Regions from separate parts of the Homo sapiens genome. Here all the other regions are linked to region 1. Evidence: fine-mapped expression QTL. A gene starts in region 1. Each other region holds a variant in brackets. All regions are shown on one strand. Distances are between the middles of the regions.

Region 1 (8,108 bases):
TGGGAGTGGAAGCTGTGGGATGAAGAGAGTTGGGAAAACTTTTGTTCAGAGAAGGTGACAATTGAGCTCAATCTTGAAGGAAGAGGGGGCACTCTAGACAGGAGTGATAAAGGGCCTGCTGGATAGAACAGTACTTGTAAAGGCCTGGAGGCCCAACAGGACGTGGCACATTTAGGAAACTGCAACTGATGATGACAGAGGACAGGATGCACATGTGGGACTTAGGCTGAGACTGGAGGAGCAGACAGGGCTCCTGCTATCAAAACGTGGCCTATATTATAGGTCTTGCAAGAGAGTTCCAAAGTATTTATTTCACTACTCTAATTACTTAAGGCACAATTCGCAGGTCATTAAAAAACGTTTACTAGTCTGCTTTTGATTGCTTATTCAGCACTACCTGTGTTAGTTTTGATAGGTAACTTAAGCTCCCTGTGCCTCAGTTGCCTTACAGGGTAATACAAATAGTACCTACCTCACAAGATTATTGTCAAAACAAATGTGTTAATAGACATGAAGAACATAAGATAGCAGTGGCACACAGAATTGATAGTGGATGTTGTGTTGCTATTGATTTGCCATCAGTGACAAACAGCTGCAGAGATTAGAGAGGAGGGAAGGGACTTTTCCTGAAATTCACAAGACACAGCCTTAATGTAAAAGGACGTATTTTTATAACAAGTAAGTTTATCTAGGGAGGTAATAGCAGGAATGTCGGTTTTTAGGTCTATGATCTCAGGTAACAGTATAAAATGATTATCAGATTCCTTTGGATAATATATTTATATTTGGATAGTAAATTTAGCTTAAAAGTATATGCTTAAGGTATAATTTGATCAATTATTTTCTGAATGCATATGATCTTACAGTTGCCCATACTGAAACCCATTTTCAATTTTCTGCCTTTCAGGTAGAGTCTTGAATGATTTTCCTAAAGTTTGAATGATTTTCCTGTTGAGTTTCGTGAATGATTTTCCTGTTCAGTTGGCAATTACTCATTTGAAAACGCTTGGGCCTCATTTGCTCATAAATCATTTCCAAAGAGAATTTCAGAAATGGAAGGGTCCTTAGAGATTGTCTAGTCCAACAGTCTATTTCATAAACAAGAAAACTGAAATACAGAGATTGAGAGACTTGTCCAAGTTAGTCTTCGAGGGCTCCACCTTGACTTTCTTACATGCTCTCACATAAACCCTCTCCCTGCCACTTTCCTTAGTGTGTGAACTGCCTGCTGATTCCAAGTCCTTGTGTATCCTGAGTAAGCTTTAATGACAAACTATTTTACTCCAGACTATGGTGAAATCAAATGGTTTCTATTTATTTAACTTGCATATTTCATGTGTTTCCTCAACAGACTTGGTTAAGTACTTGGTGCTAGGTGTTTGGTTAATTCTTGCTAAAATTCCACCAGTATGCTTATTATTACACTCTTTATTCTCCAAAGTCAAAGTCATTAAGTAAAATCATTCTCTCCCGTGAAATTTAACCACTTAACTGGGTGGATACAACCTCAGTGGTATGACCCAGATGCTGTTTTCAAATTTGCAGCATGAGTATATTTTCCAGGCGGGTTTCTAAAAATTTGAGAGTCATTGCTTAAGAGGCTTAGCGTTCCTGTCCTCTGACAGAGGTTGTACTGGGCAGACCCATCTCAGGGCCTGCCAGCTCACACACGTGCTGGAGGGGGGCCTACCTAACCAGGTGTGTTCCAAGGGTAGGCTCTGCTCTTATGACATCCAATCCACAGTCTGGCCAGTCACCTAAGTGAGGCTTGAGGTAAAGAGATGAGTTGATCCAACCAGATTCTTTCTCATGGGAATATGGCTCAAACTCAGAGAGAGACAGGTAGTTAGTAAAAACAAAACAAAACAAAAAACAAATCTAAAAAAAAATGCAGAGAGAGAATCCATAAGAAAATGATGGGTCAGAACCAGCAACACTGTGAAAGCAGAGGCTCTGAATTAGAAAAAACATACAAAGAGTAACAATAAAAGACTCATAGGCAAATAGGGGAGTGGGGAGGCGTGAGAAAAAGTGAATGTGTTATATTAAAGATGTGAGTTTAGGCCCTCAATATCCTGCTGTCAAGGTCCAGTAAGCGGGATCTCTGTCTGGTGAGCCAGGAGAAACTGAGGTTTCAGCTCCAAAGCTTGTGAGACCCTTTTTCCTTTTCCGCTACGCATTTCCACCATACCCTAAATAGAATGGATTCTTGCAACCAAAAGAACTCATTACGACACCTAGGAAATTTTAGGGAGGTGCTAGAGTGTGCCTTCAGCTTTGTCGCAGTGTACTACTCACTGGCCACTTCCACTCTCAACTCTTCCAGTGCTCAAGGGAAGTTTTACATATGCAACACACTGGCCTTAACTTCACAAATGACTGATTTCCATCCCTTTTTTCTCTTCTGCAGAAACATAACACTAATCATGCTCCTAGAATAACTACCAAGATAGCCTTTAGGGGGAAAACGTCACAAGACATGAACGTCTCCCCTGGTAGAAAGAAAGGCTCCTCCCCGAGGTCTCAGAGGCCACACCTGTAGGCAGGAGCACGCTTTTCGATGGCGGAGCCCGGTCCTTGCCTCGCAGCCGCCGGCAAACCACGGTGGCTCCCAGTCCCCGGGGATATTCCGCGTCAGCCCGCACCCCCGGTCCCCGGCCCCTGGCCCCCCGCCCCCGGCCCCCGGTGCCCGCTGGGTCACCTGTAATTGTAGGCGCTGAAACGCTTGCTCTCTCTCAGCATCGCCCGGTACAGAGATAACACTTGTGCGCGACTGGAGGCTGCCATTTTGGAAAGAAAAAAAAATAAACGGGTCCTCTTCGCCGAGGTCCCAAGTACGACCCAACCCACGAAACTCCAGCCTGTGCGGAAACCACGAACGAAATAAAATGCTGCGGCTCGGCTTTGCCAGCGGGCCGGGCCTAAGCCTAAGCGGGCAGCCCTGCGGATCGCGGACGGCGCCAGGCGTCCCGCGCCGCTTCGGGGGCGGGCGCAGGCAGGGCTCGGGGCAGCTAAGGGGGCGGTGCTGGGAGGGAGATGCCTCCGCCCCGCCCCGATCCCGCCCCCGCCCGGAGGCTCGGGACCCAGCAGCCGCTCCACGCGGCGGGAGGGCGGGGAAATAAGAGGACTGGCCGCCCGTGCATCCAGCCAAGCTCCTGGCGGACGGATATCGGAGGCCCAGGCATTCGAGGGACGTGCAGTTGCATCACGGAGAGCCTTTGGGAACCGTCTGGGGTCTTGGCGGAGACATTTGTGTTTCGGGGGCAGCGCCCCTTCCTACATCCAGGAGGCCGCGTTGCCCGGGTTACCGAAGGCCGCCGCACCGACGCCCCGCCCCTGACCGCCGATGCCCCTCCCACGCCGGCTGCGGTCGCCCTCGGCGCTGCCTGAGAGAGTTTGCGGGATTTCAAGGGTGACTTGATTTCGCCTGATCCTGGTCGGCAGGGTGGGGTTTCTTGGCATTCCTCAGGCCGGGGGATGCGACGTCTGGGTGTGGAGGTGATGAGCTAGGGGTTCTGTGGCACTCCGGCTCTGCTCAGGGCGACCTGCGTAGGGGCCTCTGGGGCAGGCCCGCTTTCTGTCAAAATGGCAGCGCCCAGCGTGCGCGGGTATCTCTGAAGTTGGGGTTTAAGATTCTTGCCCGTGAGAGCGAACGAGCCTGCCGTACTTCTGATTTTGAAACACCTGGGTCTGGGCTTCCCGGGCGAGCGGTGGGTGAGTGCCGGCCTCATTGCAGCCTGGGGTACGACGTGGGCGGTTGGTGTTGTAGGGGGTTTACATTGGCCGTGGATTTTTTCCTCTTTCCGGATGTGTTTTTGCTTTTGAGTGAAGAGTTCCCGTGGTTTTGTAACCTAATAAATGCATAAAATGCAGCTTGGGTTGTAGACTTTGGAGAATAATTAGAGACCTTTAGGGCTTTAGGCTTTCTCCAAGAAGCGGAGCAAGTTTTCAACCATGGCTTTCTTCAGAAGACTGCAGCTTTTTTGAATCATCTTATTAAAGTGGTGGATAAAGTTGCTTGTTCTGATCTTTGAGCATGGCACTGGACGCAGGAAGCTTCAGCCAGTCCTAGTTACTGTGTTTGCAAAGCACTTTTCTTGTTTTTGGAATCTTGCTTTATGTAATCAACCTTAGGAAGAACCACACCTTTCTGCACTCAAGCACAGCGAGAAGTACGTTATGCGTGAAAACAAAACAACTTTGCATTAAAATCCATCTTTCTCCGAACCACTTGGTCACGGTTGTGTTCTCATCTGCTTTAGTGTATTTGGTTTTGAAACGATATACCTGCTGTATGTCTAAACAACTTTATATTTTCAGGAACTTTTCTGTTTCCTTTTCTTTTTTTTGAGATGGAGTCTCGCTCTGTCGCCCAGGCTGGAGTGCAGTGGCGGGATCTCGGGCTCACTGCAACCTATGCCTCCCAGGTTCAAGCCATTCTCCTGCCTCAGCCTCCTGAGTGGCTGGGATTACAGGCGCGCGCTACCTCGCCCAGCTAATTTTTGTATTTTTAGTAGAGACAGGGTTTCACCATGTTGGTCAGGCTGGTCTCGAACTCCTGACCTCAGGCAATCCGCCCGCCTCGGCCTCCCAAAATGCTGGGATTACAGGTGTGAGTCATCACGCCCAGCCTCTATTTTCAGGAACTTTAAAGGCAGAAAAAACACTTCTCTGACCTTACCATTCTTTAGTGTACTTGCAACCTGGTGTCCTTGCATCCAGATATTCTTACTAATCCTGATGCAATGACATTTTTTAAAAGGCACTGAAGAGAAAATACTTTTATTAAGATATCTTTAAGTCTCCTCCCTGATTTCTTGAAAATCTCATGTCTGTTATTGTTTATTATTATTTTTTAAACAGGATAGCAAAACTTCTATTACTTCCTGGTTGGTCAGGTCATTGAGCAAATCTAGCCTCTGCTTTATTGAAAGGACTTTTTTGAGTTTTCCCTTTGCTATTTCTTAAAGGATCCAAGACCAAGGCAATTGCACATTGTTATAGAGTAAGATTCAGAGCTGATTTCTCTTGATACACTATTGTGTGCCAGTGATATGAAATGATATGCGGCACCTCAAAGCTACAACATTAATGCAAGTTACTGATAGAGAATGCTATCAGAGTGAAAAGGAAAAACTTGAAGATTATTTTGGCTTTTTTAAAAATAGCAAAGATTACATTATTTTATTATATTTTGCTTTTGAGAGTAAAGTTGGAATAATTACTATATACAATTGTTTCTACCTAATTATCAAGGAATTTAATCATTAACGTACATAATTAATGTATCTAAATTACTCAACTTTGTTGTAATCAAATAAAACTTTTCCAAATAAATATGTATAGTTTAAATAGTTTGGGTAGCTTAGTCCTCTGTTAGTACGAGCAATGGTTGCAGTTAGGAAAGTGATAGGCTTCCCAGTTAATTCTGAGCCAAGTCTTCATAAAAATACCTTATTATTTTATTTAAAATGGTTTACCAATGTGTTGGACATCATTGCCTGGAGAGGCTAAAAGAAAATAATCATTCCGTAGCTACATCTCACTTTTGCACATCTTCATTGCGGAGATGACTTAAAAAAAATAACTCGATTTGAGATTGTAAGTAGATTTGGGCCAGAAGCTGAAGAATGGACCTTACACATACGTCCTTTAATAGTCATTCTATTCTGGGTTGAAATTTTTCTTAGAGAGTATCTGTAAAACAGGAGGTACCATTTAGGCATCAAAACGTAAAAATTTCTTTAGTATTCATTTATCAAAAGTTATCGACTACCTGTAGTTCTTTATGGAAGATCATGTGTTACCTTCTATTAAAATTAGGGTTGTTAATGACCACTTAATGCTTTGTGAAGAGAAATTTCTCTAATCATAATAAACAGTGTAACAACAATTTACTGTCCTTAAGCTTAAATATCAAAATGATGTATAAAGTAAAATTTGTATAGTAGTAGTAACTTACGATATTATTTAGAAATTGTTCAGCTGGGCATGGTGGCTCACACCTGTAATCCCAGCACTTTGGGAGGTTGAGGCAGGTGGATTGCTTGAGCCCAGGAGTTTGAGACCAGCCTGGGCAACATGGCAAAACCCCATCTATACAAAAAATACATCATAGCGAAACCTCACCTCTACACAAAAAATACAAAAATTAACTGGGTGTGGTGGCATGTGCCTGTAGTCCCAGCTACTTGGGAGGCTGAGGTGGGAGGATTGCTTGAGCCCTGGAGGTTGAGGCTGCATTGAGCCATGATCACATTACTGCTCTGTAGCCTGGGCAACAGAGTGAGACCCTGTCTACCAAAAAGAAAAAACAACAACAACAACAAAAAGAAATTATTCTATTCTACACCACACATGAATCCAAGTATTATACATTGATCCTTCATTTTAATAGAACACGAAGGGGAAGGGGGAAGACCTTAGATATCAACTCATTCATTTGTACAGATGAACAAACTGAAGACTTTTTCCTCATTCGTTCATTCCTTCAGCATTTATTGAACACTTCCTAAGTACTATAGGTTATGGTTTTTCTTTTCTTTTTTCTTTTTTTTTTTTTTTGAGACAGAGTTTCACTCTTGTTTCTCAGGCTGGAGTGCAATGGTGCAATCTCGTCCGGCTAATTTTTTGTATTTTTAGTAGAGATGGAGTTTCACCATGTTGTCCAGGCTTTTCTTGAACTCCTGACCTCAGGTGATCCAGCTGCCTTGGCCTCCCAAAGTGTGGGGATTACAGGCGTGAGCCACCGCGCCCGGCCCATAAGTACCATATATTATATAAGATGATATAGTCACAGTGATGAGAGCTTCCCCACCCCTAAGAAACTTGTAGGTGACTAGATAAGCGAAACAATAATTTATTTTATAGAGACAGGGTCTCTGTTTACTAAGCTGGAGTGCAGTAGTGCTATCATATCTCGTTGTAACTTCAAACTCCCGTGCTGAAGTGATTTTCCTGCCTCAGCCTCCTGAGTAGCTAGGCCTATAGGCTCATGCCACCATGCCTGGCAGATTTTTAAGTGTTTTTTTTTTTTTTTGTAGAGATGAGATTTCACTATGATGTCCAGGGTGGTCTCAAACTCCTCAGTGCCTCTCCTGTCTTGGCTTCCCAAAGAGCTCAGATTATAGCTGTGAGTCGTGGCACTTGGCCAATAATTTCTTTTTGACAGTTGCTGCGATATGAGTAATATTAGTAAACGCTAAAGGAATAGGGAAGAGGAATATTGAACCAGGAGTTTCACCTATGGGAAGGCTTTCCATCGTAGAAGGTGTTTCCAGAATGAGAAGTAAAAGCCAGATGAGGAATGTGGTTAAAGATTGCAGTGTATATCCAAGCATGGAGGAAGAAGGGTGCTTGATCTATTTAGAGAACTCTTAAGTGTTTTAGAATGGTAGGAGGTGGGAAGGGAGGGACCACTGAAGTGTTTAGCCCTGTACTAGCTTTATTTTAGTGATGTTTTCTCTCTGTCTGGAATAAATCATTTCTTCCCTTATGCATTGGCTGAGTTATATAAGTAGAACTTAACAGCTGAGCTGTTGAAATGGAGATTATTTATTCAGGTACTGATAACCTTTTGTTTCAAATCATGACTTTGAATCCTATATTCCAGAGGCACTGAAATGTTATTTATTTACCTGTGCATTCAAGAGATAGCTGGCAGCCTAGCAATTTAAGTTACTGTTGTTGTGGTAACTTGAGGGCGATATATAAATCAAACACTGATCCTGTTTTCCAGAAGTTTATACTTTAAATGCATTTGTATATGATTAAAATAAGGTATTAGGTTGGTGAAAGTAGCTGCAGTTTTGACCGTTACTTTTAAGGGTGAAAACAGCAATAACTTTTCTACCATCCTGTACAAAGGGCTGCTGAAGCGTTGTGGGGTCTCAGTGCAAGGAGAGGTCACTTCATCCCTGATGCTTGGGCCACACCTCAGACCAACAGCAGTGCTAAGGCCCAGGCTTCAGATAATTTTGTTTAATTTTTTTTTAAAATTCTCTCCATGATTGGGTAGAGCCAGGGCTGAGAAACATTGACCTGAAGGAATTAGGGGGCTTCATGGAGGAGGTAGTGTTTGTGTTGGGCTTGAGAGGATTTAAGTTTCT
Region 2 (8,108 bases), 150 kb after region 1:
CTGCCAAAGGCATTGTGTTCAATAGTTTTATTTGTTCTTGTTGCTCTAAATTATTTTTAGAGGAAGCATTGACAGCCGTCATTGTCTTTAGTCCTCATAAGAATAATTTGAGGCCTAGGATATTAGAATATTTCTCTGAAAACGGTTTTGTCTCATTTTGCTGGCCAGTTAGAGGAAGTATGTCTGGGATTGCCTTAGATCATCTTCGTAGCCTGAAGCTCTCTCTATTGTTCAGAAAATGTGATACCTGACTGCAAGTCTACACAAGGACTGGTTTACTTTTGTGCTCATCCTCATCAGGGGGATGAGTCTTTTAGGGACTCAAACACCCCAGCTTGGTTCCACAGCAAAGCTTTCCCTTTTGTCTCACTTCCATGGTAAGCTGTTACAACCCATGTTCAGGTTTTCAGTTGATAGGTTAGATAGGCAGATACTCTCAATGCTTCTCTCTGGCTTTGTGCTTACTTTATTTTTTATTTTTATTTTTTAATTTTTTACCCCTGGCTTCATGCTTCCTGTAGAGTTCAGTCACTCCTCTCTATCTCGGTTTTACTTCTTCAATGCTGTTAAGAATTTCTGTATTTTTTTCAGTAGCATTTATCAGGAAGTTTGGTTCTAATTATCAAAACCAACATTACTAGAAATGGCAGCTGACTCATTCTTTTATTAAAACATTTTTTATGTTTGATTATGGGACTTTGGGTGGGAAGAATGATACATTCATTTGCTCAGTTATCCCTTTTGAGCCAATCTTCTACCAAGTAAAGACCTGCTGTGTCACTGACCAGAAAGTTACTTTATTTCAGTGGTAAAGCAGCTTATGACTAATGATAGCTGTGGTTAATAATCATGAAGACAATAATGAGGAAAACTTATTTAGCCATTGGAATGTGCCAGATACTCTGTATTTTTTATATATTATTTTGTTTGTAATAAAATCTACTAATTTACTATTATTATTCCCACTTTATAGATGATTCCCTGAGGCTTAGCTACTGTATCACTTGCCTAAGTTTACACAGATAGTAAGCGGCAGAAACATGTTTGAGGCTCTGCCTTGAGCCTTGGAGATACAGGACTAGCAAATTCCAGCTTGCTTCCTACCTTCATGGACCTTACAGGATTTAATTCCTCGACACTGTGGGATGGTCAGGGATGTAATTTTAGAATATGAAAGCGATTCACTAGTATTTCCACTAGAATTGAGGATAATGTCTCTTGTTGGGAACTGACTATAAGTTCATGCAAATCAAAAACAGATTAGCAAAGATCAGAAGAGTGTCTTAATTCTCTAAAAACCCCCCATACCATGTAGCGTAGTGTTTTCTTCAGAGTTGTACTAAGTGAATGTTAATTTCATTACGTTTATTGACAGGACATAATGAGTCTTATTCCCACATTATAACTTTTTAGAGTCAAAAGATTCTTAGCAGAATTTTAAAGTTATCTGATATAGATGGGCCAGGATATTTTCTTTATTTATACTTTCCTGTTGGTTTACAGTTATTTGCTGGTATAAAGGATGGAGAAAGCCTGCAGCTCTTTGAACAAAGTTCTCGCTCTGCGCATAAACAAGAGACACACACCATGGAGGCCGTGAAGCTTGTAGAGTTTGATCTTAAGCAAACGCTTACCAGGCTCATGGCACATCTTTTTGGAGATGGTAAGTGCTCAAACACAGGTTGACGATCTCTTATCTGAAATACTTGGGACAGAAGTGTTTTGGATTTGGGTTTTTTTTTTTTTTTTCATATTTTGAAATTCTTTTTTTTTTTCCCCGAGACGGAGTCTTGCTCTGTCACCCAGGCTGGAGTATAGTGGTGCGATCTCGGCTCACTGCAACCTCCACCTCCCGGGTTCAAGGAATTCTCCTGCCTCAGCCTCTGAGTAGCTGGGATTATAGGCGCCCATCACCACACTTGGCTAATTTTTATATTTTTAGTAGAGACAGGGTTTTACCATGTTGGCCAAGCTATTCTCAAACCCCTGGCCTCGTGATCCGCCCACCTCGGCCTCCCAAAGTGTTGGGATTACAGGCATGAGCCACCGCGCCAGGCCTGAAATTCTTGCATATACATAATGAGATGTCTTGGGGATGGGAGCCAAGTCTAAACACGAAATTCATTTGTATTTCATATACACTTTACGCACATAGTCTGAAGGTAATTTGATATAATATTTTAAATAATTTCGTGCGTGAAACAAAGTTTTGACTGCGATTTGACTGAAAATCTTAATGAGTTCAGGTACGAAATGTTTCACTTGTGGCTGCAGATTGGCACTCAGAAACTTTTAGCTAGAGAAAGAAAAATGATTATAACGTTTGCTAAGAATGATAATGGATTAGGTCAGTCTCATCAATGGAGTGAAAATATACAGGCTGATTTGGAGTATATTATTATGTTATCATTACATGAGGACGTGATCAGTGGAGCAAGGTTCTTTTTTTTTTTTTTTTTTTTTTTTTGAGACGGAGTCTCGCTCTGTCTCCCAGGCTGGGGTGCAGTGCAGTGGGGTGATCTCAGCTCACTGCAAGCTCTGCCTCCTGGGTTCACGCCATTCTCCTGCCTCAGCCTCCTGAGTAGCTGGGATGACAGGCGCCCACCACCACGCCTGGTTAATTTTTTGTATTTTTAGTAGAGACAGGGTTTCACCGTGTTTGCCAAGATGGTCTCGATCTCCTGACCTTGTGATTCACCCGCCTCGGCCTCCCAAAGTGCTGGGATTACAGGCGTGATCCACGGCGCCCGGCCCAGTGGAGCAAGGTTCTTAACCATGTGAATGAACCAGTGGAAAACTTTACGTATTGCCATACTGATTACCACTATCAACAGGAGTATATTAACAGTATATTATATCAACAGCAAAAACATTAACAGTATATTTCGTGCAGGAGGAACAATAGTGTTGCAATCTAGACCTCACTTAGTCACTTGCCTTTATTTTTCAAAAAATATTTGTTTTCAGTAATGCCACCTTCCCCCTCCAGCTATTTTTAACTTAATTGAGATATATTTTGTTTTTTTAAATCACGATATAAAGAGAAGGTTAGTGGATTTTCCTAATTGTGACTATCTTTAAGAAATACTTACATTTCTTATCTGAGAAGACAGATGACCTACTGTGGTTAGGATTCTCCTTTACTCTCTTATTCTTGTGAGCTTTTGTAAAAGTCAGTGTTGTTGAGGTGTAATTAACATAAAGTAAGCTACACATATCTAAAGTGTACATTTTGATCAGTTGACATACAATGAACTGCACACGAACATACTCGCACAGTCTTACAAGTTTTGACGTCTTGCAAGTTCATGCCATGAAGCTACCAGCAGAATCAATACATGAACATCTTCATTGTCCCCAGGAGTTTCCTCCTGCTCACTGGCAATCCTTCCCTTCTGCCCTTACCACATCTCACCCCGGGCAACATGTGATCTGCTTTCTGGTGCCATTAATCAGTTTGCATTTTTTAGGTTTATATAAATGGAATCTTAGAATATGTGCTCTTTTTTGTCTGGCTTGTTTTACTTAAAATAATTATTTTGAAATTCATCCATATCATAGTGTATATGAGTAGTTGATTCCTTTTGTTAATCAGTATCCCATTCCACGATTTGTTTATCCATACATTCATTGATAGGTATCTGGGTAGTTTCCAGTTTTTTGCTATTATCAGTAAAGCGT[CTA/C]TGAACATTCATGGATCAGTCTTTCTGGGTCGTACGTTTTCACTCCTCATAAACATAGGTATATGTTTAACTTAAAAAAAAAAACTGCTAAGCTATTATCTGAAGGGTTGCACCATCTCGATTCCCAACAGTAGTCTGAAAATGCCAGTTGCTGTACATCTTCAGCAACACTTGATAGGGTTAGTCATTTTAATTGTAGCCATTCTAACAGGAGTCCAGTGGTATGTCAAATACACATTTGGCATTTATAAAGGACTTCTCCATATAAACAAACAGAAATTGCAACTTAAGAGAAAAATGGGTGAACATGAAGGTGGCAAATTATATATATATATATATATATATAATGACCAATAAATATATGAAAAGATGCTTGTCTTTATTAGTAATCAGGGAAAAACAAAACCACAAAGAGCTTTTTCAAATGGGAAATAATTTTTTAAATCTAACATTTTAAATCGTTGACAAAGGTGTAGAGAAATAGAGTATAGCACAAAGTTCTGGCCTTACGCAGGATTCATGGTCACCGTTCTTCCAGCTGGGACTTCAGTACTCACTGTTCTTGATTCACCTCTATTTTTTCATACTCCAGATTTCCCCTACTTATGCCTGAACTCAAATATGTATTTAAAGAGAATCTTGTTGTAATTTATTAAGCCTCTCCTGCTCTGTTTTAGCAAGGTTTTTTAGAATATCTTGACTGCCATATTGCCAAACGCATAGTTCATGTAATATATAAGAAACCACTAGCTAATCTTCTGTATTTTTAATATAAATACATTTTCAAAAAGTGCACATCAACTTCAGGATAATGTTTTTCTAGGAAGTGGGAAATGGTATTAGGGAGGGGTGGAAACCATGTTTCAAATGGATTTATAATGTTTTTTTTTTTAAACTAAAGTTAAATATGACAAAATGTTATGGTTTGATAAAACTGAATAATGAGTATATGGGTGGTTGCTATTTTCTCTTCCTGTCTCTAGGTTTGATATATTTCATTAAAATGGCGTAATATAATAGTGAAATAGGTTTCAAATAGAAATTGCTGATGTGAAAAACCTATGATAGCCAGCATCTCTTTGCTTTCATGATAAAAGAAAGGAATTGTGATATTTTAAACATTTATATCATCTGTTTAACACAAATGCAGGGAGATGGATTGAGCTGTTCAGGCCATTTTAGAGGCAGGGTGAGGTAGAAGGGATTCTAGTATTTTAAGGAGGTAGCATTGTGTCTTAACAGAAAGATTCAGGCTCATCTGAATTTTTCCATTGCCAAACTATGGAGAGAATTTTTTTTAGCATCCTCCTTATTTATGTCATCCTACATATTTCTATAATCAAATGATTTGCTGTTTGGTGAGGTTTAGAAGCTGGATTTGCACCCTGTTGCAGGCATCACAATATTGAATAAGCTAGCCATACTCCCTGTCTTCAAAGAGCCATGGAGCCTTGGATCTTGAGCTCTCTCCTTGGGAAACATAGGATGTTCTCCGAGCACACAGGCAAGGCGCCTCCTCCTGAGCCCAGCCTGTGCTCCTGGAAGGCTCCTGCTGAGGCACATGCACGCTGACACCTGGTAAGTGGGAATTAGCCTTGGGAAAGGATAAGCAAGGTGGGGGGGCAGAAGAATGGGGTGAAAAATGACAAAGCAGGTGACACAAGTACTTGTGGAGAGCAAGCATGATGCAGCACAGTCCACGGAAAGAAGGAAAGAAGAGGCAAGGGGAAGAAAAATGATTGACAGTAGACTCTTATGACCATGGAGAAACGGTAGTGTAGAATCAGAAAACTTAAAATGAAGCTCCTGTTCATCCCCTTACTCTGAAGTCCTGAACAGGTCACGTAGCATTTCAGGTCTCAGTTTTCTAACTTTTAAAAGTTGTGATGATACTTGCTTCACTCAAGAATAAAACAAGATAACGTGAAAGATGCCTTGTAAGTAAAAAATATCAGATAAATATGTAAATATGAACAAACGGAAGAAGGAAGGAAGGAAAGGAAAGTTAAGACAAGACAATAAAAGCAGGGAGCACATGACGAAAGAGTAATACGATCAAAGAGCAACGGTCATGGCTGATTCGCCTTTATCATGTCTGAGGGAACAAGAAGGAGCTGTGTACCAGACTGTGGCACCGTAGCCTTATTGGTGCTGATGGTGGCTTTCATATCTGCACCAGGAGATATTTTAAAAAGTAAGCCATGTGCTGGCCTCTGTATAGATTATATAAGCTGTCCAAGGTGTTTCAGGATATATATCTCTCTGAAAATATGGTCCTAGACTTTCCTTTGTGTTATTTTTTATATTTGTATTTGCGTAGCTTTCAAATGCAGATGTCAGGTTTCCTTACAAAAAACAATTTATGCAATATATGACTTTTCTGACTGTGATGCCTGTCCTGACATGGTGGGCATGATCCTGGCCAAGAATTAAGAATCTTAAATTTGGGCCAGGCGCGGTGGCTCACACCTGTAATACCAGCACTTGGGGAGGCCGAGTTGGGTAGATCATGAGGTCAGGAGATCAAGACCTCCTGTCTAACATGGTGAAACCCCCATCTCTACTAAAAATACAAAAAAATTAGCTGGGCGTGGTGGCACACGCCTGTAGTCCCGGCTACTCAGGAGGCTGAGGCAGGAGAATCGCTTGAACCTGAGAGGCGGAGGTTGCAGTGAGCCAAGATTGCACCACCGTACTCCAGCCTGGGCAACAGAGCGAGACTGACTCAAAAAAAAAAAGAAACTTAAATTTTAGAATAGCAGTGAACTTGTAGCTTCTTTCATTTCGGCATATGTTGCTTTATTGTTTTAAAAATATTGTCAGCCTAGACTTTTGGTAGTCAGCTTTTATTACAGATCGATGTTGCTATTTTATAAATGTTCAAATTCACTTTTTGTCTGTAAGACTGAGCTGGCAGAATTATGGAATGGAATTAAAGTTTAAAAATCCACCTGCTTGGATAATACATGTTGGTTCACACGCATCAGAATCTATCTGGGAAGAAAGCCTTTTCTTTTTCTTCTTTCCTTTGAGCCATGGTCATTTTTAACCCCATCCACACAGTGGCCAGGCATCCTGAAACTGCTGAAAGGTGCCTCATTCACACACCCTTGCCATGCCCTGGTGTGTTTCTGCCGGTTGTGTTGCCACGAGCTGTTGTTGTAGAGGTGTGTGAGCTTGTCCCCGACCGTGTTTGCCGTGTTTGTGACGTCCGCTGTATTGCCTCTCAGGGGAGATGTGAAGTGAAGTGGGAAGGTGACTGGAACCTGGGCCCATCTGATGAACTAGAAGAGTGAGAGGGTCTGTATCACAGAACACAGACAGTGCTGTGTGCTTCCTTCATGCTCACACTGAATGTTAACAATGCTTTCAGGATTCTCAGCTGTTTCTTCTGAACTCTGAAGAAAAGTGCTTTGTTCGTTTTTGTGTTTTTTTGTTTTTTTTTTTTTTGAGATGGAGTCTCACTCTGTCATCCAAGCTAAAGTGCAGTGGTGTGATCTCAGTTCACTGCAAACTCTGCCTCCTGGGTTCCCGCGATTCTCATGCCTCAGCCTCCCACGTAGCTGGGATTACAGGCGTGCGCCACCACACCTGGCTACTTTTTTGTATTTTGTATTTTTAGTAGAGACGGGGTTTCACCATGTTGTCCACACTGGTCTCGAACTCCTGACCTCAGGTGATTCACCCACTTTGGACACCCAAAGTGCTGGGATTACAGGCGTGAGCCACTGCACCTGGCCGCGTTGTTCTATTTCAGGCATTTCAGAAGCACTAATTAGTTATGGGTTTTGGGTTCTTGCTGTTGGTTGGTTTATTAATTAAGTAATTTTGCTAGCTTCTGAAAAATGTCTTGGTAAACCTATCTAGGTGCCATCAACCTGGATTAAATTTACATTAATAATAGCAATAATAATGGTAATAATGGTGACGATAGAGATAATAGTTAACAGTGTGAAACCCTGTGCTAAGCACGTTGACAAGGAGTTTTTTCTTTTGACGTGCATCTATGATATGGGTGTTACAATCTCTGTTTTTCAGATGTTGTATTGAGAGTAAAAATTAGGTTTATAATTAATTGTTAGTGCTACATTCTTCTTAAATGGAATCACATCAAAAATTTTAAGTGTGTATCACTTTAAAAATTTTTAAACCATCTCTATGATATGGGTGTTACAATCTCCGTTTTTCAGATGCAGGAACCTAGACACAGAGAAAAAGTGCCATGTAAAAATCACAGGGCTGGTAAGTATTTGAGGCAGTTCGAGCCCACAGGCTGACTTCTAAGGCCATACCAGAAGTTAGCTTTTGGATAGGATACAAAGAAATCTTATTAGTAATATTTCAGAGACTGTGAGGCCTATAAAAGCCATGATGTCCCCCTGGCCAAACAACAACAACAACAAAAATCAGGGCCAGGCCCAATGG
Region 3 (8,108 bases), 530 kb after region 1:
ACCATGTCTGGCTAATTTTTTGTATTTTTAGGAGAGACAGCATTTCACCATATTAGCCAGGATGGTCTCGATCTCCTGACCTCGTGATCCGCCTGCCTCGGCCTCCCAAAGTGCTGGGATTACAGGTGTGAGCCACCGTGCCCGGCCTCTCTTAGCAAGTTTTAAGAACACAATACATTGTTACTAACTATACCCACCATGATGTACGATAGGTCTCTAGAGCTCACTCCTCATGTCTAACTGAAACTTCACACCCTTTGACCAGCATTTCCCCATTCTTCTCACCCCCGGGCACTGGTAACCACTATCCTACTCTCTGCCTCTATAAAGTTCAACTTTTTTACACTCCACCTATAAGTGAGATCATGCAGTATTTGTCTTTCTGAGTCTAGCTTATTTCACTTAGCATAATGTCCTCCAGGTTCATTCATGTTGTTGGAAATGTATTTTTTAAGGCTGAGTAGTATTCTGTTGTGTTAGTGAGGATGTGGAGTATATATATCACATGTGTGCATATACCACATTTTCTTCATTCATCCATCAATGGACACTTAGAGTTTGATGGCATGTCTTGGCTACTCTGTATAATAATGCAACAAATGTGGACGTGCAGATATTTCTTCTAGATACTGATTTCATTCCTTTGGATATATCCCCAGTAGTGGGATTGCTGGATCACGTGGTAGTTCTATTTTTAATTTTTTGAGGAACCTCTAAATTGTTTTCCATAATGGCTGGTCTAACTTACATTCCCACCAACAGTACAAGGGTTCCTCTTTCTCCACATCCTCACCGACACCTGCCTTTGGTCTTTTTGATAAAAGCCTTTCTCAAGGTGTTAGGTGATACCTCATTTTAATTTGTAGTTCCCCGATGATTAGTGATGTTGAGCATTTTTTCATAAACCTGTTGGTCATTTGTATGTTTCATTTGACAAATGTCCATTTAGGTTGTTTGCCCATTTTTGATCAAGTTATTTGCTTTCTTGCTGTTGAGTTGTTTGAGTTTCCTATATATTTTGGACATTAACCCCATATAGGATACATGGTTTACACATATCTTATTCCATTCGGCAGGCTGTCTCTCCACTCTGTTGTTTCCTTTGCTGTGCAGAAGCTTTTTAGTTTGATGCAATCCCACCTGTGTTTGCTTTTGTTGCCTGTGCTTTTGGGATCATGTCTAAAAAATCATCATCAAGGCTAATACCAAAGAGCTTTTTCCCTATGTTTTCTCAAAATGGATTAAAGACTTAAACATAAAACCTGAAATGTAAAGCCACATTCCATCATTTTAATCAGTCCCTGGCAAATACTTACAACTCATTTGCCCTGCTTGTCGCTCTCATGCTTGCCTGGAAAAATCCCTCCCCTGGTGTCTGCATCTCTGCACCCACCCACACGTGTGAACCCAAACAGCCTGGAGACAAAGCCCAACCAGTGCCAATGGGTGTCACTCTGCGTTGCTGACTGGACCTCAGTGGCCCCTAATTATTGCCAGCCAATCCCACTGCAGTTTATTAATCAGCTGGCTCCTCCTTTTCCTGGATACCAGCTCATACTCCTCTGTCCTGGAGCCTCCAATGCTCCTTCCTCCTGCTCTCACTCGAGGGGAGCTGGGTCCCATTCCCAACTTACCTGGGACATGGAAGCTGTCAGAAGAGAGTGCCTTTATGCTCCCGTACCTCACCTCCCGTTTCCTACACAAGTCACTGGGTGTCTACCACAGCTTGTGTCCCCCTTCGTCTATTCCAGGATTTCACTCAGCCCTTATCCATTTTAATAAGTCTGATATGTCCACACTTTGAAACTGCTTGGCCTAAAGAGGGTGAGGCTGTGCTTTGATGCCATGAGAATTTCCTGAGCAGCCTTCTCCCGCCTCCTGTGGGGTCTGCAAGGGAAACCTGAGCAGGAAACCCCAGGCACCAGAGGGACGTTCAGCAGCCACTTTCAGTAAAATGCCATTGCCTAACAGCTTAATTACGAGCTGAAATGAAAAAAACAAATAAACAAATAAAACCCTAACCTCCTTTTCTATGCTTAATTCCATTCCTAGTGACCTTCTTTGATGGAAATAGAGAAATTCTGTTGTTGTATTGAAGAAGTATCAAATTTCCCACATGTGCATTTCAGCTTCTCAGAACTCATGGTTGCCATGGGCTGTGGTGCAAGCTTATCTGCCCCTGGCCCACACAATGTCCAATGTCATGTCATGGGACCCCTGCCACTTTGTGACATAAAATGTAAGAACATTGAATGCTACTGGCTGGGTACGGTGGCTCACGCCTGTAATCCCAGCACTTTGGGAGGCCAAGACGGGCGGATCACAAGGTCAGGAGATAGAGATCATCCTGGCTAACACAATGAAACCCTGTCTCTACTAAAAGTACAAAAAAATTAGCCAGGTGTGGTGGCATGTGCCTGTTGTCCCAGCTACTCGGGAGGCTGAGGCAGGAGAATTGCTTGAACTCAGGAGAGGGACATTGCAGTGAGCCAGCATTGCGCCATTGGACTCCAGCCTGGGCGACAGAGTGAACTCTGTCAAACAAACAAACAAACAAACAGAAAACACGTAATGCTACTTTGAGGCTAATGTAGACAATATGTGTTTCCCTGCCACAAGCCAGCCTACATTTGGCTGTGCCAAGGTAGAGGGCAGGAGCTTGCCTGGAGTAGGCAATACTGTGGGATCCATCAGGAAAGCCACCCCCTGGTCTGCAGAGGACTGTTCTGTGACCGAAGAGCTTACAGGAAAGGTCAATGTCGACTCAAGGTTAACTTAGGTCATTCAGTGTGTTTTGACTGAGAGTTTATCACATATTGGGTGCAGTCCTAGGCAAGTGAAGGTAGTGTCACTGTCAACAAGGATGTCACAGCCCTGCCCTCATGTTGCTTATATGCCAGTGGGAGGGAAACATGAAGACAGATAAGCAGGCAAATAACTATGTGCAATTGTAGTGGGGGCTGTGAAGAAAATGAGCATAGGCCTGAACCAGAGTGGCAGTGGTTGCATTTTAGGGGTATTGGTCAGGAGAGTGTCTCCGGAGGTTGACATTGAAGCTGAGACCCAGTGGATGAGAAGGGGCCACTTGAGTGGAAGACATCATCCTGGCCAAGGGCAGACCCAGAACAAAGACCCGAGATGAGGCAGAGATGGGTGATTATGAAACAGAAGACCCATCAGTGTGGCCCCTGGAGCAGAGGGACCAGGGAGAGGCAATGCAATGAAGCTGGGGAGAAGGGCCTTGCAGCCAGATGAGGAGTCTGGATTTCAATCTCAGAGAAATGGGAAGCCCTTGGAAGGTTTGAGAAAGAGTGAGCCATTGTCTGATTTGTCATCTAAGCAGTTTAGTCTTGCTGCTTTGTGTGAATGGATTCAAGGGGGTAAAAGTGGACATGGGAGACCAGCTGGAGGAGGCTGTAGTCATGGGGGTTGGAGGTCAGGGTGACTGGGACTAGGGAGGGAGAAGAGGACGGAGTTGAGATGGGTTGATTGGATGCAAAGAATAAGGGAGGGGTGGCATCAAGTATGGCAACTGTGTTTTAGG[G/A]CCCATGGATCTTGGTGTCTGGCAGAAAAAGCTGGAGGTGCATGAGTTTTAGGGGTGGGAGTGGAGGTGATGTTAAAGAAAAATTACACTAGACAGAGTTTAACAGGCCAGGAAGACTTTATTCCAGACTATCGCAATAGGAAAGGAGACTGAACTCAAGTCCAAATGCAACAGGGGCAGCCATGGATTTATGGCCAGCAGACAGGGTGAGGGGTCACTGGGCAGAAAATTACCAAAAGGAACTTGGTTAGGCATCAAGAGTGGGGAGAGTCTCACCAATCTGGGCTTGGCAGGCTGAGGATGAGGCCTAATCTAGAAGAGAGCTGAGTAGGGCCTGACTCAGGTTTCACCAAGGAGGGGGTGTTAGTTCGTTTTCATGCTGCTGATAAAGACATACCCAAGACTGGGAAGAAAAAGAGGTTTAATTGGACTTACAGTTCCACATGGCCAGGGAGGCCTCAGAATCATGGGAGGAGGCGAAAGGCACTTCTTACATGGCAGCAGCAAGAGAAAATGATGAAGAAGCAAAAGCAGAAACCCATGATAAACCCATCAGATCTTGTGAGACTTATTCACCATCAGGAGAATAGCATGGGAAAGACCAGGCCCCATGATTCAATTACCTCCCCCTGGGACCCTCCCACAACATGTGGGAATTCTGGAAGATACAATTCAAGTTGAGGATTTGGGTGGGGACACAGCTAAACCATATCATTCTACCCCTGGCCTCTCCAAATCTCATGTCCTCACATTTCAAAACCAGTCATGCCTTCCCATCAGTCACCCAAAGTTTTAATTCATTTCAGCATTAACCCAAAAGTCCACAGTCCAAAGTCTCATCTGAGACAAGTCAAGTCTTTTCCACCTATGAGCCTGTAAAATCAAAAGCAAGCTAGTTACTTCCTAGATACAATGTGGGTACAATTAATTGGTAAATACAGCCATTCCAAATGGGAGAAATTGGCCAAAACAAAGTTACACGCCCTATGCAAGTTCAAAATCCAGCAGGACAGTCAAATTTTAAAGCTCCAAAATGATCTCCTTTGACTTCAGGTCTCACATCCAGGTCACTCTGATGCAATAAATGGGTTCCCATGGTATTGGGCAGCTCCGCCCCTGTGGCTTTGCAAGGTATAGCCTCCCTCCTGGCTGCTTTCACAGGCTGGCGTTGAGTGTCTGCAGCTTTTCCAGGCAAATGGTGCAAGCTGTTGGTGGATCTACCATTCTGGGGTCTGGAGGATGGTGTCCCTCTTCTCACAGCTCCACTAGCCATGCCCCAGTAGGGACTCTGTGTGGGGGTTTCAACCCCACATTTCCCTTCTGCACTGCCCTAGCAAAGTTCTCCATGAGGGCCCTGCCCCTGCAGCAAACTTTTGCCTGGGCATCCAGGCGTTTCCATACATCTTCTGAAATCGAGACAGAGGTTCCCAAACCTCAATTCTTGACTTCTGTGCATCCACAGGCTCAACACCACATGGAAGTTGCCAAGGTTTGGGGCTTCCATCCTCTGAAGCCACAAGTTGAGCTCTACGTTGGGCCCTTTAATCCACAGCTGGAGAGGCTGGGACACAGGGCACCAAGTCCCTAGGTTGCACACAGCACAGGGACCCTGGGGCCAGCCCATGAAACCACTTTTTCCTCCTGGGCCTCCAGGCCTGTGATGGGAGAGGCTGTCCTGAAGGTCTCTGACATGCCCTGGAGACATTTTCCCCATGGTCTTGGGGATTAACATTAGGCTTCTTGCTACTTATGCAAATTTCTGCAGCCAGCTTGAATTTCTCCTAAGAAAATGGGTTTTTCTTTTCTATTGCATCATCAGGCTGCAAGTTTTCTGAACTTTTATGCTCTGTTTCCCTTTTAAAACAGAATGCCTTTAACAGCACCCAAGTCACCTTTTGAATGCTTTGCTGCTTAGAAGTTTCTTCTGCCAGATACCCTAAATCATCTCTCTCAAGTTCAAAGTTCCACAAATCTCTAGGGCAGGGGCAAAATGCTGCCAGTCTCTTTGCTAAAAGATAACAAGGGTCACATTTGCTCCAGTTCCCAACAAGTTCCTCATCTCCATCTGAGACCACCTCAGCCTGGACCTTATTGTCCATATCACTATCAGCTTTTTTGCCAAAGCCATTCAACAAGTCTCTAGGAGTTCCAAACTTTCCCACATTTTCCTATCTTCTTCTGAGCCCTCCAAACTGTTCCAACCATTTGCCTATTACTCAGATCCAAAGTCGCTTCCACATTTTAGGATTATCTTTTCAGCAGCACCACACTCTGCTGGTACCAGTTTACTGTATTAGTCCGTTTTCGCACTGATAAAGACGTACCCGAGACTGGGAAGAAAAAGAGGTTTAATTTGACTTACAGTTTTACATGGTTGGAGAGGCCTCAGAATCATGGTGGAAGGCAAAATTTACTCCTTACATGGCAGTGGCAAGAGAAAATGAGGAAGAAGTGAAAGCAGAAACCCCTGATAAACCCATCAGATCTTGTGAGACTTATTCACTATCACGAGAATAGCATGGGAAAGACCGACCCCCATGATTCAGTTACTTCCCCCTGGGTCCCTCCCACAACACATGGGAATTCTGAGAGATACAATTCAAGTTGGGATTTGGGTGGGGACACAGCCAAACCATATCAGAGGGTATCCTTGTAAATGAAAAGGGGAGGACTTAGGCTCTTGTTGGGTGTAATAAGTTTGAGATGTCCAAGAATAGATGTTGAGTACATGCCTCAAAATGTAAATCTGGAGCTCAGGGGACAGTTCTGGGTGGGATATACAAATTTGATCATGACTATAAAGATGGTTTGGGGAAGCTATGACCACCACTGAGCTCTCAGACCTGTGATGTAGAGTCTGACAGGCCAATGCCAGCCAGAGCTTTTAAATCCTGTATGGAATAATTAAGTACATAGCTATGGCTTGAATGTGTTCCCCAAAGTTCATGTGTTGGAAACTTAATCCCCAGTGCAATGATATTGAAAGGTGGGACCTTTAATAGGTGATTAGGTCATGAGGGCTCTGCCTTCGTGGATGGATTAATGCCATTTTCAGGGGGGGTGGGTTAGTTATCTCAAAAATGGGTTCCTGATAAGAGGATAAGTCTGGCTCTTTTCCCTTCTCTCCCTCTCTCTCCCTTTCTCCCACCATGTGATGCCTTCAACCATGGGATGACATAGCAAGAAGGCTCTCCCTAGATGCCAGCACCTTGATATTAGACTTCCCAGCCTGCAGAACTGTGAGAAATAAATTTCTTTTCTTTATAAATTACCCAGTCTCTGGTATTCTGTCATGGCAGCACGAAACAGACTAAGACACATACCGAACAGGTTTTAGTCCCCCACCGCAGAGGAAGCAGGGCCCAGTCATTCTCCTGCCTCAGACTCAGAGTCCTTATCACATGAAGGCAGGTAGAGACTTACTAAGGACTGGCTTCTTATAAAGAAAGAAAATTCTCTTGCCCCTCCTGGGTGTTAACTGAATGAGAATATTTCTATTGTAGTGATGCTTAAATATATGTAATTATATAATTAAGTATAAATGCTGTCTTAATCAGTTCAAGCTACTGAAACTAACCACCATACACCAGGTGGCTGATGAGCAACAGAAATTTATTTCTTACTATTCTAGAGGCTGGAAGTCTGTGATCATCAGGGTGACAGCATGATTGGGCTCTGGTGAGGGCCTGCTTCCAGGTTGCAGCCAGCCAACTTCTCACTATGTCCTCACATGGCCAAGAGAGATTATCTCTCACATGTCTCTTCTTACAGATGCATTGTCTTAGTCCACTTGTGCTGCTACAACAAAATACCTGAGACCAATAATTTAATGGTGCATTTAAAAATAACTAAAAGAGTATAATTGGAATGTTTGTAACATGAAGGATAAATGCTTGAGGGAATGGAGACCCCATTCTTCATGATGTGAATATTATGCATTGCATACCTGTATTAAAACATCTCATGTACCCCAGAAATATATATACTTACTATGTACCCACAAAAATTTAAAGTTTAAAAAATTTTAAAAATAAACGAAATACCCGAGACTGGGTAATTTATAAAGAACAGAAATTAATTTTCCCACAGTTCTGGAGGCTAGGAAGTTCAAGATCAAGTTGCCAGTGGATTCAGTTGTCCAATGACCATCCAGTCACTGCTTCCAAGTTGGTGCCTTATTGCTGTATACTCCAGAGGTGAGGATATTGTGTCCTCACATAGCAGAAGGCTGAAGGGCAAAAGGGATGAACTTCCTCTACCAAGCCTAATGTAAGGGTGCCTAATTCCAAGCAGGAAGAAGGAACCCTCATATCCTAATCACTTCTTAAAGGCCCCACTTCTTAATATTATCACATTGGCAACACCTGAATTTTGGAAGGGACACATTCAAACCATAGCATTCCACCACTCCAACCCTGGCAACCCAAATTCATGTCCTTCTCACATGCAAAATACGTTCATTCCATCCCAATGGCTCCAAATCTCTTAACTCATTTCAGTATCAACTTAAAAGTCTAAAGTCCACAGACTCATCTGAATCTGATATGGGTGAGACTCCAGGCAG
Region 4 (8,108 bases), 24 kb before region 1:
ATAAAATAATAAAATAAAAAACTCTCATTCTTGTTTAGGAAGACTAAATTTAGAACTGCTTTACATTTGAAGCATTAGTTTTGGGGAAAATTTCACTATTATTTAAATTATTTATTCTGTTTGTGTTTAGCATCCCTAAGATGTGGACAAAACAAGGAACTTCTGTGAGATGAGCCCCTCGTGTTCTTATCACCCAATGGCAAGTGGCCTTCACGGGGCAGCTCCCTTCACTCCTGCGCTCCTCCACAGAGGCGCCAGGTGCCCTTAGGCTATAAGGATTCAAATCAAAACAGGACAAGCTTTACAAAGCTCCTGGTATTGGGCACATATTACAAATTACTCTATTTTATAACAGGAGTATACACAGTGCTCTGAGAACAGAGAAAGAGGGAGTAACTCAGCCAGGGGCTTTGAGAAGTCTTTCCAGGGAAGGTGATGTCTTTGAAGGATGAATAGAATTTCACCAGAGGGAAAGCCTTTCTGCAACGGCAGGCTAATAATAAATATAGAATTCAAAACCCAAGGTTCTACATGAGTAGGAAAACACAGAAAAGGAAAGATAAAAATATCGAAGAAGGAATACAAAGTTTTGGAAAAAGGAGAGAGGAGCTATAAGAAAAAAAGAAAGGTGACTTTAAAAGGAAGTATGTGGAACTGAACATGGGATGGAATTCTCTGGTAACATTACTAGATTGAGGAAGAAGGAAATTACCAGTAAAGTTGTAGTTTCAGAATTATAGCTAGCAAGCAAAATTCGGTTTCTACCAATGAGAATGCCAAACTCCTGTCCCCCTACTCCCAAACCCCCAGAGCTCAGGTTCACTGCCAGCTGCACTCCAGAGCTTTGTACCTGGCACACTGCTTACCCATTCTACTGCCTTGTACCCGGGGACTCACTGCAGGTCTCTCCTCCCACCAGGTTCCTCATCTCTTTAAGACAGTGCTTGGCCCCTTTCCATCATTACTTCCCCTATAGGACCTGCTATGCTTTGCACATAGTGGTGTTAAAACCACTGTTGAATTGTAATTTTTTTTGAGACGGACTCTCGTTCTGTTGCCCAGGCTGGAGTGCAGTAGCATGATTTTGGCTCATGGCAACCTCCGGCTCCTGGGTTCACGCAATTCTCCTGCCTCAGCCTCCTGAATAGCTGGGATTACAGGCATGAGCCACTGCGCCTGGCACACTGTAATTTTTTATTTAATTAAAACAAACAAACAAACCAAATACAATCACAAAGACCCACAAGCCGATTTCTATTCTAGAAGGAGTAAAAATTCAGTTACATTTAGTCACAAGAATGATATATATCAATAGACTAATACAGTATTCATTTTTTTTAACTTCACAAGAAATTTTGGACAATAGTTTTATGTTTTGGTGACTAATCACATGCTTATCTTTTCTTCATTATTCATTTAATAGCCATTATAGCAAATTGCTAATATTTGGTAGTTCTGGAAATAATTTACATATACCTCCAATTATCAGCATATTACATTCAACATTTGCTGTATCAGGCATAAGGTATTTAAACACATCATTACAATTCTACTCCTGCACAAGATTAAGTATGTGGATGTAAGTTACTTTCAAATTCTTTAAACAGAAAAATAATCTGGTTGTGTTAGTCTTAAGAACATAGCTCAAGGTCTGTTCTTTTACCCCTGTGTTTGAGCTTTACTTGGTTACAAAGTGGTTTCATCAGAAGAAAATGTGTTTACTGACTGCCACTGGAAAAAGTGTGAAAATATAAAATATTCTCACTGGTTTTGAGATTCCTAATACTGTATATATAATATACTGGCCTAGAATAAGAAAGAAATGTTAACATTATGCTTAATGCCACTTTTTTGACACTATCTGAGAGGGAACTCTATGTCAACAAAACTATGACCACTCTACAAGAACAAAGTACAGTCAAATATATCTCTTCCTGAGCGCAGAGGGAAAGCCATTTTCCCGTAGGTGGATATTGAGGTTTTAATAAACAAGTGGAGTGATGTTAATAGACAATGGCTGTAAGCTCAAAATATTACATTATTAAAAATGAGCATTAGGCTGTGTGTGGTGGCTCATGCCTGTAATCCCAGCACCTTGGGAGGCCGAGGCGGGTGGATTACCTGAGATCAGGAGTTTGAGACCAGCCTGGCCAACATGGTGAAACCCCGTCTCTATTAAAAATATAAAAATTAGCCGGGCATGGTGACGGGCGCCTGTAATCCCAGCTACTCGGGAGGCTGAGGCAGGAGAATTGCTTGAACCCAGGAGGCAGAGGTTGTGGTGAGCTGAAACAGCACCACTGCACTCCAGCCTGGGCGACAGAGTGAGACTCCATCTAAAAAAAAAGGAAAAAAAAAAAGTGTTAGATAAAATTTTCTGAAACCAAAGTTTTCATTTTTGGTACATGTTAAGTGGCTCCTAACTCAAACTAACCCTACAGACTTACAGTTTATAAATTATTTGAAGATCTCATCTGAATATTATTTTGTTTAAAAGAGATGGTCTGTTATAATAATCCCTCTAAAAAAATCTCTAAGGGGGCCAAGCGCAGTAGCTCACATCTGTAATCCCAGCATTTTGGGAGGCCAAGGCGGGAGGATTGCTTGAGCCCAGGAGTTCAAGACCAGCCTGAGCAACACAGTGAGACCCTGTCTCTAAAAAAAAAAAAAAAAAATTAAAAATTAGCTGGGTGTGGTGCTGCATGCCTGTAGCCCCAGCTATTTGGGAGCCTGAGGTGGGTGGATCACTTGAGCCCAGGAGGTCGAGGTTGCAGTGGGCTGTGATTATGCCACTGCATTCCAGCCAGAGTGACAGTGAGACCCTGTCTCTTAAAAAGACAATCTCTAAGGAACAGAACAGAAGGGCTTTGAATTGCAGTGGGTTCAAAGTTCTTAGGGGTCTTTGACTCTGTCCGTGGGAAATCCCTCAAGGTAAAGAATTGGCTTTCTACTCAGTCTAGAGCTTGTATGGGAGTGTAACTTCACATCCACTGGTGTTTAAAACAGGGGTCCCCAAACCCTTGTCTGTGGCCTATCAGGAACTGGGCTGCACAGCAGCAGATGAGCGAAGCTTCATCTGTATTTATAGCCACTCCCCATCGCTCACAATACCACCTGAGCTCCACCTCCTGTCAGATCAGTGGTGGCATTAGATTCTCATAGGAGCACAAACCCTATTGTGAACTGCGCATGCGAAGGATCTAGGTTGTGCACTCCCTATGAGAATCTAACGCCTGAAGATCTGTCCCTGTCTCCCATCATCCCCAGAGGGACCCATCTAGTTGCAGGAAAACAAGCTCAGCGCTCCCACTGATTCTATATTATGGTGAGTTTCATAATTATTTCATTATATAGTACAATGTAATAAACAGAAATAAGTACACAATAAATGTAATGTGCTTGAATTATCCTGAAACCATCCCCCACAACCCCAGTCCGTGGAATAATTGTCTTCCATGAAACCAGTCCCTGGTGCCAAAAAGGTTGGGGACCACTGGTTTAAAATGTATGAAAAGTTGGGGTGAACTGAGCACTACTTATGAAGGATTGCCTAAAAGACAAGCCCTGTATCTACTCTTCTAGATATGCTAAGCTGTGTCTGTTGGATGTGCCAAGGACCTGCAATTTTGGTTACCTGCAAAATGCTTTCCTACTGTGGCCTTGTGCTACCAGCCAACGTGACAGGATGCCAGAAGCACAGGCCCTTTGAAACTGTTGTACTTATGCTGAGGATGCTGCCCTTCATTGAAAGAGCATAAGAGAATGTCTTCCGCTTTAGCACCAGAAAGAGTTACAATTCTTCTAAGAAAGTGGCTGCTTCGGTATCACAGACACTCTGACTCACATTACTAATCATGGTCCTCTCCCTGCATAGGCTGCTGGGAAGCTCAGAACCAGACCTGAGGCCGTGCTCCTGGCTGCTTACTGTCCTGCCTTCTAACCACCCTTTTGCTTGGAAACCTCATCCCAGGACTTATTTTGGTTTTCCTATTCTTATTTTCCTGATTTTTCTTACTTAACACACCCACAAACAATTCTGATCTGTGGTTAAAA[A/G]TATATCGAAATTCAGAATAAAATTAAATGCAACTTGTTTTCAAATAAACTATGGGAGTATAAACTATATACTGAGAGACATGATAGGGTTCTAAAATTTCTTACTGAGAATTTGGAACAACAATGTTAAATGATGGTAAGGTTCACAGGGCAGTCCAAGTAAATTTAATTTAACCATGCTGCAGCAAAATGACAGTGTTAAGAGAAGTCACTCCCAGCGTAATTCTATACTCATGTTAAAAAAGAAATTCTTATTAGAGGATTTGTGTTTAAAGAGACATCATTGATTATCTGAATTTGTATAGGCACTGGATATATTAAGTCAACTAACAAATCATAAGCATTTAAATAGGAGTAAGTCCAGGGGCCTTGTAAATAACCCATAGTTTATTCAGTCAGTTGACTTGTTCTTTTTTCCTTACATAAACAAGTAACAGGGTGATTTAATTCAGTGAGAGTGGTGAAGTGAATACAGATCTGTGAAGAACAATAAAATGTTAATTTTATGATCCTGTTTATTTTGCTGAAGTTTCTACATGATAGGAAACAAATGCAAATTTTGACCCAGGGTCAGTCCTTACTATTTCCAGCAGCAGAAAATGAATCTACTAGGATACCTGAATTTTATAAGCAAATCCAACCTATTTCATATAAACATAATAAGGTCTTGGACACAGTTATTCATAGTCCGAGACTATTAACTGGGCTCTCATTCAGCATTTATGCATTTGAAATCTACCTAGTCAAATTTTCTTGACAAAATGTTAGCCTCTAAAGGAAGAATTCTGCTTCTGATAACCCATTATGCTACTTTTACACGCATGTGTTAAGCAAGCAGCAGAATCAGATTTGGAATTTAGAAAGATATTCTTTCCGGTGGCAATAGGCAGGATGCCTGGCAGAGCAAAGAACAGGAGGTAGATAGACCCGGAGGGGGCTGTACAAAATGCAGACAGAAACTGATGAACCAACAAAAAGCAATCAACTCGTGAGACATAAAGAAGGTCCGGCAAGGGAAATAAGTGAGAGAACCTGCTGGGCATAAGGACCTACTGACTACGGTAAAGTAAGGGGAGAAAGTGAAGTGACTTCCAGCTTGCACAAGGAAATACTGGGATGATGAGAGGCAATGCTGGAGTGTTGAGTTTGCCTGAAGGATTAGGTTGGGGATGGGTTAGGGATGATGTGGAGTTTTAGTTTAGATACGAGGTGTTGGTAGCATAACCAGAAAATGCCCAGGAGGCCCCTGGAAAGGACAAATGGAGGGGAATCACTAGAGCACACAAGGTTGGAGCCATGAGTTGTGGGCATCTAGGGAGGGTGTGGGAAGGTCAAGATGGAGTGCAAGGGGCCTCCAATGTCAAGCGGAGCCAAGAGAGGAGCAGACAAGGAGAAGGTGGTGTCCCGCACGCTAGGGAAGGAAGAAAGAAGCTGGAGACTGGTTAATTGGGCCAAAGATACAATGAAGGAAAGTGACAAGAAGGAAGGTGGCAGGCCAGACTGCAGCAGAGTGAGGAGTGAGGGCAGCTGACAGCCGGGAGAGTGCACAGACCATTCCCACCAGCTGCAGGCTGTCAGGGTATCACTGACTTCCTAATCGGCACAGGCCACATTGGTCTTTTCCCAAGGCTCTTCCAGACCTGCAGAATCTGGGTTTCTGCTCTATGAGGGTCCCTGAGCATAGGCCCTTAAAAACATTCTCACCACCCCCATAGGGAACAGTACCTGGCCATGGCGCAGAACAAGTGCATGAGAGGACAGAGAGAGAAGGGAAGCTGATGCCCCCGGCAGGGATGCTCATGCTGCCTGCCGCAGCCAATCAGGTGGAACCCAGGGCCTGTGGTCTAGGATCTTTCCTTCCATTAAGGTAAACAGGGCAAAATAAGACTCAAAACACCACAGGCTTCGAAGACATCACCTTTCAGTACTCCACCTAGCTCTGCCAAACCTAGCCTCAGCTGTATCCTATTGCTGAAAACTCTCCTTACAGTACATCCAACCTTTCCAGGCCTTCTCTACGTCTGCTTGTTCCCTGACTCACTCTGGTAAAATCTCACCTCCTATCTTTCCTTTCTCTTCATTTTTTCTGCCATCCATTATTACTACTCTGCAGAAGTATTTACATTAACACTACTCCCCCTCCTCTGCTGACACTTTGGAATATGGCATGTACCCAAGTTAATTTATTTTCAATGTATAAAACTGTACCCTTTGTGATAATATTACCTTAGGATACTCAAACACAATACAAAAATATTTACTTAAGAAATCTAAAACAATAGCAGCTGGGAGAAATATCTATTAAAATACCAACTGTGAAATGACAGTTGTTAAGTATCTGTTTTACCCTGTTTTAAAAGAAGAGCACACCAAGGGTTTTGCCAAGCTGGGGAGGAGTGGAGTTCCAAAGACAAGACATCCTGGGCAAAGTACTCAGGGGCTTCCGTCTCCCCGCAGACAGGTCAACTGAGGATTGTAAACCCGCAGCAGTAGTATCCAATGTAGGTCCCAGCTTTGTGAGCATGGCCAGGGAAAGAAAGGACTGCTAAGAAAATGAAAATAATTATTTAGGGAGTAACAACTAAAGAGTCCACATGCTGACCTGTAATTTAAGTCAAGGGGAGGCAAGAACAGAAAAAGCTTCACTGAAACACCAGCAGCGCCTCAATGGCGGGGGCCCACTTGGAGGGACACTGGAACGCGTCAGTCTTATTATCACTTACATAAAGAAGCACATCCAAAAATGCAAAAGGAGGTGGAAGCAGGGAATGTACCTGCCTGAACCAACGTGGAATACGGGGAAAAACGTTGGCTTTGGAGAATCCGGTGTTAAGCTGGCTCCATACCAACTTTGTTATTTTAGGTTACTTCTATTCTATGAACTGCAGCTTTCTTGTTTGCAAAATGGGGGAAATTAAAAGTGCCTGCTTAATAGAGTTTTTATGACAGTTAAATAAGACAATGCAAGGAAGGGCCTAGTATGTGTCCGGCCCATGGGAGATGGTTAATAAAAAAAAAGAGCTGTTATGATTGTATTTGTAAAATGAAGTAAGAATCCTCATTTCATAGTGACTCTATACTAAATAAAACAATGCATATTAAAGTCTATAACATACAGTGCGTGACAGACAGCATGTATTCAATCAATGTTAATTCACTCTGAAGCTACCTTTTCTTCTCAGTCTACCAAATAATAAGGGATTTGTGTAAGTATGGAGGAGAGATCCCTAAGGCAGTAAACAGTCTCGTAGGCAAGTACAGACTTTATTAGCATTACAATGGTTTTCATCAGAATTTGAATGAAACCAATTCTTCCAATGCTTTTGATCCCTGGAATCAGACTGTAACTTGGCCTCAGTATAGAATTTTGTACAGCATAGGCATTTATGAGACCACTGCCTCCAGTGTATTCAGTGATCAAAAGTATTGGAAGTTTCTGCTGTAACATAAATCTTAGTAGAACATAAACTCCATGAAGGCTGAAACTTGATAAGTTCTATTTCGCTGATGAATCTCCAGTGCCTAGAACAGTGCCTGTTACACGGTGGAAGCTCAGTAAACATTTGTTAATTGAATGAATATGGTTCGCAGGCATATGTTATATATCAATATCAAAAAGTTCCTGTCCACAAGGATTAGAGACAGGAAAACAGGCCGTGGAGATAACTGGAAGTAAAATGGTGATACATCGTGCCATTGGCCTGACTCAGAAATATTGGAGATTCTAATAGAGGCCTTCATCTTCTTTAGCAAGGCCCTAAGATCCTCCAACCTAAATAAGAAACTCCCAAACACTCCCGGCCATATTACTACTACCTTAATCTGTAAGTGCTTTACAGATTACAAGGCCTTCACACACACATTGTCTCAGTTATAATTTCCTGGCTTGCTTACACTTTTTTTTTTTTTTTTGAGATAGAGTCTCACTCTGCCACCCAGGCTGGAGTGCAGTGGTGTGATCTCGGCTCACTGCAACCTCTGCCTCTCTGGTTCAAGCGATTCTCCTGCCTCAGCCTCCTGAGTAACTAGGACTACAGGCACGTGCCACCACGCCT

What was found. PIP is the estimated chance that this variant, and not a neighbour inherited with it, causes the effect.
Region 2: its variant is fine-mapped to the expression of FARS2 in testis (GTEx, PIP 0.91).
Region 3: its variant is fine-mapped to the expression of FARS2 in testis (GTEx, PIP above 0.99).
Region 4: its variant is fine-mapped to the expression of FARS2 in whole blood (TOPMed, PIP above 0.99).

Annotation. Positions count from the first base shown.
Region 1 is chr6:5,257,947-5,266,054 of GRCh38, forward strand. FARS2 (phenylalanyl-tRNA synthetase 2, mitochondrial) reads left to right here and starts at 3,567. Exons shown (of 7, transcript NM_006567.5): 1 at 3,567-3,714. It overlaps LYRM4 (LYR motif containing 4), which reads right to left and starts at 3,004. Exons shown (of 3, transcript NM_020408.6): 1 at 2,702-3,004. The coding sequence starts at 2,787. RefSeq lists an enhancer at 2,235-2,284 and silencers at 2,495-2,804, 2,865-3,084.
Region 2 is chr6:5,403,039-5,411,146 of GRCh38, forward strand. FARS2 (phenylalanyl-tRNA synthetase 2, mitochondrial) reads left to right here. Exons shown (of 7, transcript NM_006567.5): 3 at 1,504-1,663. Among named protein-coding and RNA genes, the nearest start is that of FARS2-AS1, 51 kb to the right of the region's middle. The variant CTA/C (reference allele first, on the strand shown) is at 3,682.
Region 3 is chr6:5,791,403-5,799,510 of GRCh38, forward strand. No RefSeq gene overlaps it. Among named protein-coding and RNA genes, the nearest start is that of NRN1, 210 kb to the right of the region's middle. The variant G/A (reference allele first, on the strand shown) is at 3,545.
Region 4 is chr6:5,234,126-5,242,233 of GRCh38, forward strand. All of the region lies in intron 1 of LYRM4 (LYR motif containing 4), which reads right to left. It overlaps LYRM4-AS1 (LYRM4 antisense RNA 1), which reads left to right. Exons shown (of 4, transcript NR_126015.1): 4 at 3,583-6,371. LOC124901249 (a long non-coding RNA gene) reads right to left here. Exons shown (of 2, transcript XR_007059423.1): 2 at 4,426-6,598. Among named protein-coding and RNA genes, the nearest start is that of LYRM4, 23 kb to the right of the region's middle. The variant A/G (reference allele first, on the strand shown) is at 4,054.